3 linked regions of the Homo sapiens genome follow. The protein of the gene in region 2 interacts with the protein of the main gene of each other region in a pairwise test. Each region holds a gene or a part of one and is shown on either strand. Other genes may lie near its edges. The genes, in order: C1orf94, AIRIM and RUSC1.

Region 1 (3,821 bases), 3.5 Mb from region 2:
GAAATATTAATTGTAGAGGCTGGCAAGAGAAGAATGGATATCCTGCGGCAACCTTTCAAGGGCACGTAGCAGGGCTCACAGCTGGGGCGGGCCCATATGTTCTTGACACACCAATGCCAGCTTTCTAAGAGCCTCATTGATTCCTGTGGTATGTAGAGGAGAATGGCCTGGAGGGGTTGGTTCTGGAGGCCATATCCCCTGAAACCCACCGTGAGTTCAGAATGGAGACAAGGAGGTGGTTGCAGCTGGGGGGGACATGAGTGTTTCCTTAAACACCACAAAGGCTGCAGTGTGGGAATGAATGGGGAAGATGCTTTCTTCATTGTTCTGGATGCCTGTGAGGAAAAGTTGTGCAGAGGCACATATGGGTGCATCGTAACTAAGATCTAAACATTGATAATTACATTATAATAATTATGCTGTGAGCATTTCTCGAGGGCCCACTATGCACCCAGCTTGTGCTAAGTGTTTTGTACAACTTATAGAATGCTCACAGTCTGACCTTGACAGATGAGGAATACAAGGTGTAGAAGGCAGCTCTTGAGAGGCAGAGCAGGGATTCACACTCAGCCCCTGGTAGTTCCTGTCTGCTAGCCTGGCTTCAGGTTGGGGAGGGCAGGAGTGACCTCCCAGGTGCTGAGAAGGGACCATCATGGGGTGATTTTTGGTACAGGGATCTCAGGGCCCTGTGGGGCTTCTAGAAGCTACTTTGAGTATGTGCGTGTAATATTTGTATAAAATAAAGCAGAAAGCAAATACAGACAAATAGAATGACTAGTGTGTGATGACCCTATGTAACCATTACCTGGCTTTAGCAATGATTAACATATGGCCAATCTTGTTTCATCTATTACTCCCTCTCTCTTCTTTTCCCTCCTCCTGCTGGATTAATTTTAAAGGCATTCCCCGGCATAATTTTCTCTGTAAATAGTATGTATCGCTAAGAGATAAGGACTCTTTGTTGTTGTTAGGCATAACCACAATACCATTATCACAATTTTTAAAAATTGACCTAATTGTACTGTGTCTTTCTAATTCAGTGAAGCTATTGGTGTATGGCTTGCTTTGCAAAGTATTTGGGGAGGGGAGGCAAAAACTAGTCTGACTCCTGTGACTTGAGACTCACCTGTTCCTTTTGAGGTGGATGAAGAGGAAGAAGAGGAGGGGGATCTAAAACTTGAGACCGCAGATTGGCAGCCCCTTTATTCTGATTGTTCTCAGGGGACTCAGCCGGGAAAGTGAGGCCTATTTATAGGCCTAAGTCTAGACATGGGAAGGAGGCAAAGGAAGGGAATAGGTGACAAGTCAGGGAAAGGGGACAGAAGAGAGAGTGGAGGGAAAGAGAAAATAACAGCAAGTGATCTTGCTGCACACATAGCTCCAGTGGCCCTTCAGGAGCTGGCCGGGACCAGCCCACACTAGCTAATGCTCACAGCTGACACTGACTGAATGTTTCCTGTGCACAGGGCACTGTGCTGAGCTCACGTACCAGTGACCTCGCCCAATGCTCCCAACCATCCCATGAGGCAGGTGATGTTAGGTGTCACACCCATTTTACAGGGGAGGACACTGAGGTTCCAGGGTCCGACATGAAAAGAGCAGTGGTGCCTGGATTCAAACCCAGGTCTGTTTGTCTGGAGTCTGCTTTTTGCAGGCTTTACTCTCTGCCTCCAAGCCTGGTGATGTTCCATGTGGGGGTAGAGAGGCTCATGTTCAAGAAGTACGGCTGTCTTGGCTGCTGGACTATTGGTACATTCCCATGTCTTTAGTACATAGCTCTTCCCCAGGGTCCCCAAGCACCCTGGGCTACCAAGTCTTTGCCTCAGGACTCATCAGGACCCAGCAACTAAAGGTTTCCTGTCTGGCACAATAGGAAGCCTCTAAGACTGTAGACTGTGTCCATTCTGATTGACTGTTAAATGCAGTGACTACTCCCCTGGGTCTGTGTATGGTGACATGTGAATTGTGTGCCTGCCTGTTTCTGTTCGTGGGTGTGTGTGTGTGTGTGTGTGTGTGTGTGTGCGTTTGTACACAATAAGCATTACCAGGAAGGCATGGACCCTGCTGGAAGCATTCCATGGTCACCGTTTTGGAGACTCATCATGCCCTCTGAGAGGCTGGCCAGAGCTGGAACCTGTGCTGGACCTCCAGACTGCAAAGCCTAAGCCACAGCAGCTGAGCTCCCCTATGGGACTCCTTGATTTTTTCCCTTGGGTCTTCATCATCTTCTCCTTCAGCGCTCCCATGATAGAAGGCTGAGTAGTTTCCAGAATGCTTGGTGTGGGCCACCTCATCCACTTCTCATAGGAGCCCCTTGAGTAGGCACAGCAGATGGTTCTAGGCTGGTGGCTCTTGTCCTCCTGGGTGCCTGCTTGCCAAGAGTGCTGGTGAGGTGGGCGGGGCCACCAGCCAGGCCAGTAGGATTGCAATCCTCTCTACACCTGGAGAGAAGTGGCAACGAGGAGCCTAAAAGCCAGGAGACCATCAGGTGCTATCAGACAGGTGCAGACCAGCAAGTGTGCAGCGGAGGACCCAGGGTCCAAGGGGCAGGTTGAGGCCATTATTTAGGTTCAGGAAGATCCTGGTGAATCAGTGCAGGGATCAGTGCAGGGATCTCCCCACTGCTGGTGCTGTACATGAAGGGAGGCCCAGTCCAGAGGCTGTGATCGGGTCAGAGGCCATGCCAGAGTGAACATGAGTATCCAAGAGGCTACCGTATGAGATCCAGGGGCGGGGACCAACTAAGGCTGACAGTGGTGTAAACATGAGAGCTGACCTTTGAATCGCCCTTACTCTATGCCAGACACCATTCAAAGTGCTTTGCACCTCTATGATACTCCTAGTAATGAGAGGAGGAGACAGAATACCAAGATGCTGAACAACCTGCCCAGGGTCACACCGATGGGAGTTGACTGGATCAGGGTGTAAGCTTAGGCTGTCCACTCCACCATTCTGCAGTGAGGTGATGGGGGCTGCGCTACTCTCCTGGGGGCTTCCCAGGGCTCAGCCCCAGCACCCTAGACTCTGCACTTAGAGCTGTTGGCTTGCTCCTGACCCCTTTGCTGCTGGGCAAAATTCCCCAGTGAACCCCTTCTCTGGTCTTTCATTGCTTCAGGTTCTGAGCATGAAGAACAAGGAGGAATGGACTAGAATTAAGGCTCAGTGAGGCTGTGACTTGCCCCAGCTCACTCAGCAAGGTTGTTGGGAGAGGATCCAGGTTTCCCCATTTTTCAAAACCATGCTCTCAGTGCTGCATCCTACCGCTGTGGTATAGGACCCTCTGGGGGTCCAGTGTGTCTGCTGGGTTATCTTGCCTGGAAGTGTGTTTTTGTCATGTTATGCATCCATCTCCCTTTTCTGGGGCCTATGTCCTTCTGCAAAGCCACGCCTTGGTGAGCTGGCACTAACACCGTCTGTCTCTCTGACCCATTTCCAGAGCTCTGGAGCTCAGCAGTGGCAAAGATGAGATCTCCTTGTTGGTGGAACAGGAGTTCCTAAGCCTCACCAAAGAGCACTCGATCCTGGTCGAAGAGAGTTCTGGGGAGCTGGAGGTACCCGGCAGCTCTCCCGAGGGGACCAGAGAGCTGGCTCCCTGCATTCTTGCCCCTCCTCTAGTGGCAGGCAGTAATGAGCGCCCCAGAGCCTCCATCATTGTCGGAGACAAGCTTCTGAAGCAGAAGGTGGCCATGCCCGTTATCAGCAGCAGGCAGGACTGTGATTCTGCCACTTCTACTGTCACAGACATTCTGTGTGCCGCCGAGGTCAAGAGCAGCAAGGGGACAGAGGACAGGGGCCGCATCCTAGGTGACTCCAACTTGCAA
Region 2 (3,821 bases):
AGAACACCAAGTACCAACGCAGGGCTCTGAACTTTATCCCATTAGCAACAGGAGCTATTCCTATACAGTACAGAACAATTCTGATCCTAACTATCAGGATCAGAACCAGACTTCCTGCAGATATAGAGGTCATTCATTGGAGTCAGCTTAGAAGGAAAGAAACTAGACAGAGAAAACTGTCAAGAGGCAATTAAGAGTCCAAGTGAGAGCTAAGAAGCCATGTAAGCAACAGAGGGGATGGGGACAGAGAGGGAAAATCAAAGAAGCACCAGGGAAACAGAAGGAAAGGACTTGACAAGTGACTGTGTAAACATTCTAGCACATAGCAAGTGCTTAGTAATGTCAGCCGCAGCTCTTGCTCCTTCTGCCCATGCTCCTGTTGCTGTTACTACTACTGCTACCAATGCATTTAAAAGGGAAAATAAGCCGGGCGCGGTGGCTCGAGCCTGTAATCTCAGCACTTTGGGAGGCCTGAGGTCAGGAGTTTCAGATCAGCCTAGCCAACATGGTGAAACCGCCTCTCTACTAAAAGTACAAAAATTAGCCAGGCGTGGTGGCAGGTGTCTGTAATCTCAGCTACTTGGGAGGCTGAGGCAGGAGAATTGCTTGAACTCGGGAGGTGGAGGTTGCAGTGAGCCAAGATCGTGCCATTGCACCCCAGTCTGGGCAACAAGAGCAAAACTCTGTCTCAAAAAATAAATAAATAAAAGAGAAAACAGGGTGGGTTCTACGACTCAAGGAAAAGGGGGCTGAATTTGAGGGCTAGATTGAGGAGTTCAATTTTAAACTTGAGTTTGCAGTTCTAAGAACAATCCAGTTGGAGGCATCTGCAGGAAACCAAAAGTCAAGACCAGAGACAAGAAAAGTTGGGGTTTGGGAATTATTCACATGAAGGCAGAAACCTAAGCTAGAGGCTAAAATCAGGTGTCAGACAAGAATTGAGAGAAGACCAGGCATGGTGGCTCACACCGGTACTCTTAGCACTTTGGGAAGCCAAGGAGGTAGGATCATCAAGGCCAGGAGTTCAAGACCAGCCTGGTCAACACAGCAAGACCCCATCTCCTAGGCAAAAAAAAAATTTTTTTGAGAGAAAAATGTTAGAGCTTCAACTAACTGGTCTTTCTGCTTTTACCCTTGCCCCCACTACCCCAAATCTTACCCTAGAACGAAGCCAGAATGATACTGTTAAAAACATAGGTCTTATCCTGTTACTCCTTAATCAAGTTTCTAAGAGGTTTTTCTGTCACTCGAATGCTTTTTTTTGGGGGGGGGGGGTGGGCGGGGGGTGGTTTGAGACAGGGTCTTGCTCTGTCACCTAGGCTGGTGATCACACCCAGGCTGGCAATCAAGGCTCACTGCAGCCTTGACCTCCCACGCTCAAGCAACCCTCCCACCTCAGCCTCCTGAGTAGCTGGGACTATAGCTGCACACCATCATGCCTGGCCCAAAATTCTTTTTTTTTTTTTTGGAGACAGAGTTTCACTTTATCACCCAGGCTGGAGTGCAGTGGCACGATCTCAGCTCACTGCAGCCTTGACCTCCCCCAGTTCAAGCAATCCTCCAGCTTCACCCTCCCGAGTAGCTGGGATTACAGACTTCAGGCACATACCACCATGCCTGGCTAATTTTTGTATTTTTTGTAGAGACGGCGTTTCACCATGTTGCCCAGGCTGGTCTCAAACTCTCGGGCTCAAGCAGTCCTCCCACCTCAGCTTCCCAAAGGGCTGGGATTACAGGTGTGAGCCACCACGCCCAGACCCCAAATTCTTTCAAAGACCTTCAAGGCCCTAGAAAGTCGAGCCCCCTGTCTTTCTACCCTCACCTGCTGTTAGGCTCCTCCTCATGCTCCAGTCTAGCCTCCTTACTATTTCCTGAATAGACCAGGAATGTTCTTACCACAAGGCCTTTGCATTTGATGTTTCCTCTGCCTAGTAACTTTCTCTCCCCAAATAGCCACATAGCTCTTTCCCTTACCCTCTTCAGATCTCTGCTCAAATATCACTTTCTCATGAAGCCTGCTCTGACCACCCTATTTTAAATCACAACTCCACCCTCACTCCTCACTTTCCCTGCTTTATTTTTCTCCATAACACTTATCGCCATTCAGCATTCTACTTGCCTTTTTCAATGCCTGTCTCTTTGCACCAAGAACAGTGCCTGACAGGTAGTAGCTACTCGATAAATTATTAGAGGAAGGATTATACAAAGGAATGCAGGAAGAATCCAAGTTCAGGAACCAAAGAGAACTGACTCAAACTACTTAGTTTTCCAATCTTGTGAAAACTGAAATTTGAAAGACTTAGAACAGCTCTGGCTGTGACCTGAAATGTGTGCAAAGGATACGACTTTCGATAATGTCTCTCAATATCCTGCAACCATTCCAACATGTCAGCCACAGAGGGGCTCACTGCTGAAGGCTGCAGGACAGCATCAATGCCAACTGTGTCTGCGTGTTGCTCATAGATCTGAAACACTCGCTCCACATGGCTGCTGACCATGTCTCGCACCTTGAGGAGGATGGCTCTGCAAGAAAGAGTCTGACATTAGGCAATATCATGAGACATGTATAAAGGAAGGTTTCTCAATTTTGGCACTACTGATATTTTGGACTACATGATTCTCTGTTGTGAAGGGCTGCCCTGTACATTGTAGGACGTGTAGGAGCATGCCTGGCCCCTACCCACTAAATGACAGGTGTAAACTATACCTATACCCTCCATAAGCCATAACAACCAATAATGCCTCTAGATGATGCCAAATGTCCCCTCATAGAAAAACCATCTCCAATTGAGACCACTGGTCTAAGGAGATTAGTGACAGTGTCTTGGAGGTACGGGTGGCTCAAGAATCAAGAAAGGGGCTGGGTGCAGAGGCTGTTGCCTGTAATCCCAGCTTTGGGAGGCTGAGCGGGGTGGATCACCTGAGGTCAGGAGTTTGAGACCAGCCAATGTCCCAAAACCCCGTCTCTACTAAATATACAAAAATTAGCCAGGTGTGGTGGTGCACACCTGTAGACCCAGCTACTCGGGAGGCACGAGAATCACTTGAACCCAGAGGCAGAGGTTGCAGTGAGCCAAGTTCGCGTCACTGCACTTCAACCTGGGTGACAGAGCGAGACTCCGTCTCAAAAGTGTGTGTGTGTGTGTGTGTGTGTGTGTGTGTGTGTGTGTGTGTGTGTGTGTATAGTTTTTGTTTTTGTTTTTTGTTTTTTTATTGAGATGGAGTTTCGTTCTTGTCGCCCAGGCTGGAGTGCAATGGTGCGATCTTGGCTCACCACAACCTCTGGCTCCCGGGTTCAAGTGATTCTCCTGCCTCAGCCTCCTGAGTAGCTGGGATTACAGGCATGCGCCACCACACCCGGCTAATTTTGTATTTTTTTTTCAGTAGAGACGGGGTTTCTCCATGTTGGTCAGGCTGGTCTCGAACTCCCGACCTCAGGTGATCCACCTACCTCGGCCTCCCAAAGTGTTAGGATTACAGGCATGAGCCACCGTGCCCAGCTAATATATATTTTTTTTTAATTAAAACATTTAAAAAAAAAAACAGGTGCAGTGGCATGCCTGTAATCCCAGTAGTTTGGGAGGGCAAGGCCAGAGGACAGCTTGAAGCCAGGAATTTGAGACCAGCCTGGGCAATATGGCAAGACTATCTCCACAAAAAATTTTAAAAATTAGCTAGGTATGGTGGCATGCTCTTGGAATCCCAGCTACTCAGGAGGCTGGCAGGAGGAGTTAGAGGCTACAGTAAGCTATGATCATACCGCTGCACTTCAGCCTGGGCAACAGGGTGAGACTGTCTCTAAAAATAAAATAAAAATAAAT
Region 3 (3,600 bases), about 120 Mb from region 2:
GGCTTCGGGACCGGAGTTCCTTGAAGGTGGTGACTTCCCGAGGAGGTGCCGAGGAGCCGCCCGGCGACCCCGAGGGGGGGAGCTCGGTGTCGGGCGAGAAGACTATGAGCCAGTCACTGCGATCTTTCTTCGCCTGCGGGACAAGGGGCAGCCCTGGGCCCCGCTTGCGCTTCTGGGCCAGCTCGTGGAAGGACGTGATTGTCCGGTGGGGCACCGGCTCCTCGCTGACGTCACTTCTCCATCCTCCATCAATTTTCCCTGCATCTGTTTTCGAGCCAGAATCAGTTATTCTTGTGTTGGTTTTCCAACCAGAGTCGAATTTTTCAGGTTCACTTTTCCAGCTAGAGTTAACATTCCCGTTGTTTTTCCAACCAGTGTTATTGTTTTCAGTGGTTTTCCATTCAGCTTTAGTTTTCTCTGTGTCAATTTTCCAAATTGGGTTAATCTTCCAACTGGGCTCCGTTTTCCCAGCGTCGATTTTCCCATCATCCGCCTCTAAGAGCTCAGAGGTAGGGAGATCCTGCTCCGCCCTCTCGTCCTCTTCCTCCAAGCCTGGGGAAGGGACGTCCTGGCAGGTGGTCAGGGCGTTGCAGTTCGAGTCCAGGCCAGGATCGGGTGAAGAAGAAGCTCCGGAGCAGGAATCAGGAGAGCAGCAGAAGCTGTCCGGTGAGCAGGTGCCAGGGCCTGCTGAAGCCAGTGGGGAGCCCTGCTCCAGGGGGATGATACTGGGCTGAGGGTGGGCATCCTCATCACCAGGGAGGTCCCGCAAGTAGACTGAGACAGGGGACTCATCGGGGCTAAGATCTGAGCAGGAGCTGAGTGAGGAGGAGCAGCCTGGGTCTGAGGGAGAGGCAGCCCCCTCTTCCTCCTGTGACGGGTCCTGCCGGTTTTCTAGGCCCGGACCGTGCTCCTGGCAGCACCGGCAGGGCACAGCTGGGCTGTTGGAATTGGCGTCCACCAGGGTGCCACTGCAGGGGCCCCTGCTCTCCTTGCCCCCAGTGTCTCCTGGAGGAGGGGGTGTGCTCAAAGGCCCCTCCTGTAGCTCAGGACGGCGGGACAAGTGCAGGCCCAGGGAGACGTGCTGGAGGTGGATGTGGTTGAGGTTGCAGAGTAAAGCTCTCTGAGGGGACAGCATGATGCTAGCGGCGATGGGATGGCTTCTAGAGAACCAGAAGGGTAGGGTCTCTCACATCCACCTACCTGGCAACCACAGGTGCAGACCTAGAAGACAGAGGTGGTGAAGCCCGGCCAGTGAGGACAAGAGCTGCGGGGAAGGACACCGAGGTGACTTGACGGCAGCAGCAGGCCTGAAGGCTCTGGCTGCTTTGGAAGATATTTCAATGAGATGCAAATCGCAATCGACTGACCATTAGTTTCCACTGCAGTGTTTGCAGATGGAGTCGAATGTAACCCCCCGGGAATGGAGCCGGGAGGGTCAGAGAACGCGGCTGCGCTCTGGATCTCCGAAGGGGGGCGGGGGCCTGGAAGAGGTCCGGGCCCAGAATGGACCTCCAGGTCCCTGCTGCCGCAATCTGGCCCTGCCCTCCAGCCTACCCCTTACTCCCAGAGGAAGGGACCCAGGGAGACCCACCCAGATGCCCTGAAAGGAGGTGGAGGATGGGGGTGGGGCAATACGCAGAGTTTGTCTGGTGAATGCAGGAAAGGGGTGGGGGCTGGAGAGGAAAAGGATGGAGCAGCCGTCAGCTTGTCAACTCCGCATCTGCTGGCTGCCTCGGCCGGGCTCCAGCCTGCGCCCTCGCCCCTCGGAACAGCGGTATGTCCATTCTCTCCGCATTCGTCTCCATCGTTCAGCCACCACCGCACCCTTTCTCTATTCATTTCTCCTGCTCCCTTGTCCTGCCCCGCCCCTCGTGCCCAGGTCCATCGGTCTACACCCATGGGCCGAGCCCTCCTCACCAGGGTCCTCCTGGAACCGCTCCGGCCTTGGGCTTGTCCGCGGCTCCCACGGTCCCCGCCCGGCGGGGCACAGAGCGGGAGGGGAGGGGCACTAGCACAACCTACCCTGCGCTGCGCAGCTGCACCCCTTCGCGCATGGGCGTGGCGTAGCTCAGACCCGCCCCCAGCGTTTAGCGTCTTTTGTCACCCACCTAGAGGGTTTGATATATCCTAAGCTTTTGGCCCCTGGGTCCTGGTTCCGTGCAGCGAGTCCTCCCAGCACCCCACCCTGCACATTCTGGAAAGAGCCAGACTCTGGCTGGGCCGAGCAAGAACAGAACCACAAGAAGGTTACACGATTATTTATTGAGAGCCTCCTCTCCCCGCCCTTGCAATCTCTAGGTCACTTTCTCCGCTTGTAGATTTTGCGCGCAAGCCCCAGAAAGACGGCTGGGGGCAGGGGTGCTGCGTACTGTTCAATGAGAGCCATAATGTGGCTGTAACTGTCTTCCTCATATTGCAAGAACACTGCTGGCAGATCCAGCTCCTCATATAGCGCCTTCACCCGGGCCACTTTCTCAGCCTCCTTCTGCCCGTAATTTTCCTGGAAGAGGTTGAAAGACAGGAAAACGGGCTTGGCCTTCCCCAGAGCCTCCAGGACCCCTCCACTCCCCTCATTCACATATTCCAGAACATCTCCAAAGCCACCCACTCCTTTCCTCCCTCCAATTTTCAAGTGTCTCTACGTAGCTAAAATCCCAAGCTTCCCTTCCCTATCCCAAATATTGCCTCATACCAGGCATCCTCTACTCCAGGGTTTCTCCACCTTGGCACTATTGAAATTTGGGACCAGATAATCCTGTCTGGGGGAGCTGTTCTGTGTACTACATGTTTGGCAACATCTTTGGCTCCTGCCAACTAGATGTCTGTACCACATGCACACACACAGAGTTGTAATGACAATGGCAAAAAATGTCTGCTGACATTGCCAAATGTCCCCTCGGGAGGAAAACTGCCTCTAGTTGAGAACCACTGCTCTATCCCTTTCCACCAACTCAGGGACCCACCACCCTCTCTCAGGCACCTTCAGGATCTGGTACTGTTCTGGAGTGGCCCGTTGCAGACACTGAACCACCAGCCAGCTGCATTTGTTGTCCTGGATGTCAGTGCCAATTTTGCCGGTCACACTGGGGTCCCCAAAGAGGTCAAGGTAATCATCCTGGGCAGGGAGGGGGAGGGCAGCAAAAGAGGAAGGATGAGGTTCCTGGGCAGAGGAGGAGTGAAGCTGGTGCCTGTTCTCTGCTACTGCCTCCTGCCTTCTTACCTGAATCTGAAAGAACTCCCCCATCTCCAGCAGGATCTTCTTGGCATTGGCGTGCTCCTTCTCGCCATCAATTCCTGCCTGCAGGGAAAGGGGGGTTAATAAGCCAAACCCCAGGGGTGCCGGCATCTTCCTGGCTGCTTCCTCCCATGGGGTCTTGCCCTACTGCAGCCCCAAATCTTTCCTCTCTCTTCAGACATCTTGGCTTCCCTGACCTAGACAGTCCTGACTGATGGTCCAACCTCAATCCCACTTATTTTTGGCTAGGCCTTCCTGGGAGTCATAAAAGAGATGAATCCATTCTAGAGGTGCACAGCCTGTCTCTTCCCTCACAAATGTCAGTCCCCAAGTCATTCTGATCCACCTTCCTAATATTTTTGCCA

What was found.
Region 1: the proteins of AIRIM (region 2) and C1orf94 interact in binary tests that used the Homo sapiens proteins (3 or more experiments, as listed by UniProt).
Region 3: the proteins of AIRIM (region 2) and RUSC1 interact in binary tests that used the Homo sapiens proteins (3 or more experiments, as listed by UniProt).

What each region holds. Positions count from the first base shown.
Region 1 is NC_000001.11:34,193,789-34,197,609, forward strand, and holds part of C1orf94 (uncharacterized protein C1orf94), read left to right. Parts: intron 1-3,436; coding exon 3,437-3,821.
Region 2 is NC_000001.11:37,683,930-37,687,750, forward strand, and holds part of AIRIM (AFG2-interacting ribosome maturation factor), read right to left. Parts: intron 2,524-3,821; coding exon 2,344-2,523; intron 1-2,343. UniProt on the Homo sapiens protein: Part of the 55LCC heterohexameric ATPase complex which is chromatin-associated and promotes replisome proteostasis to maintain replication fork progression and genome stability.
Region 3 is NC_000001.11:155,319,309-155,322,908, reverse strand, and holds the start of RUSC1 (AP-4 complex accessory subunit RUSC1), read right to left. Parts: upstream 2,016-3,600; 5' UTR 1,918-2,015; exon of another isoform or gene 1,222-1,917; 5' UTR 1,136-1,221; coding exon 1-1,135. Other genes in the region: FDPS (farnesyl pyrophosphate synthase), read right to left, coding at 2,300-2,500, 2,981-3,115, 3,221-3,298. UniProt on the Homo sapiens protein: Associates with the adapter-like complex 4 (AP-4) and may therefore play a role in vesicular trafficking of proteins at the trans-Golgi network. Signaling adapter which plays a role in neuronal differentiation.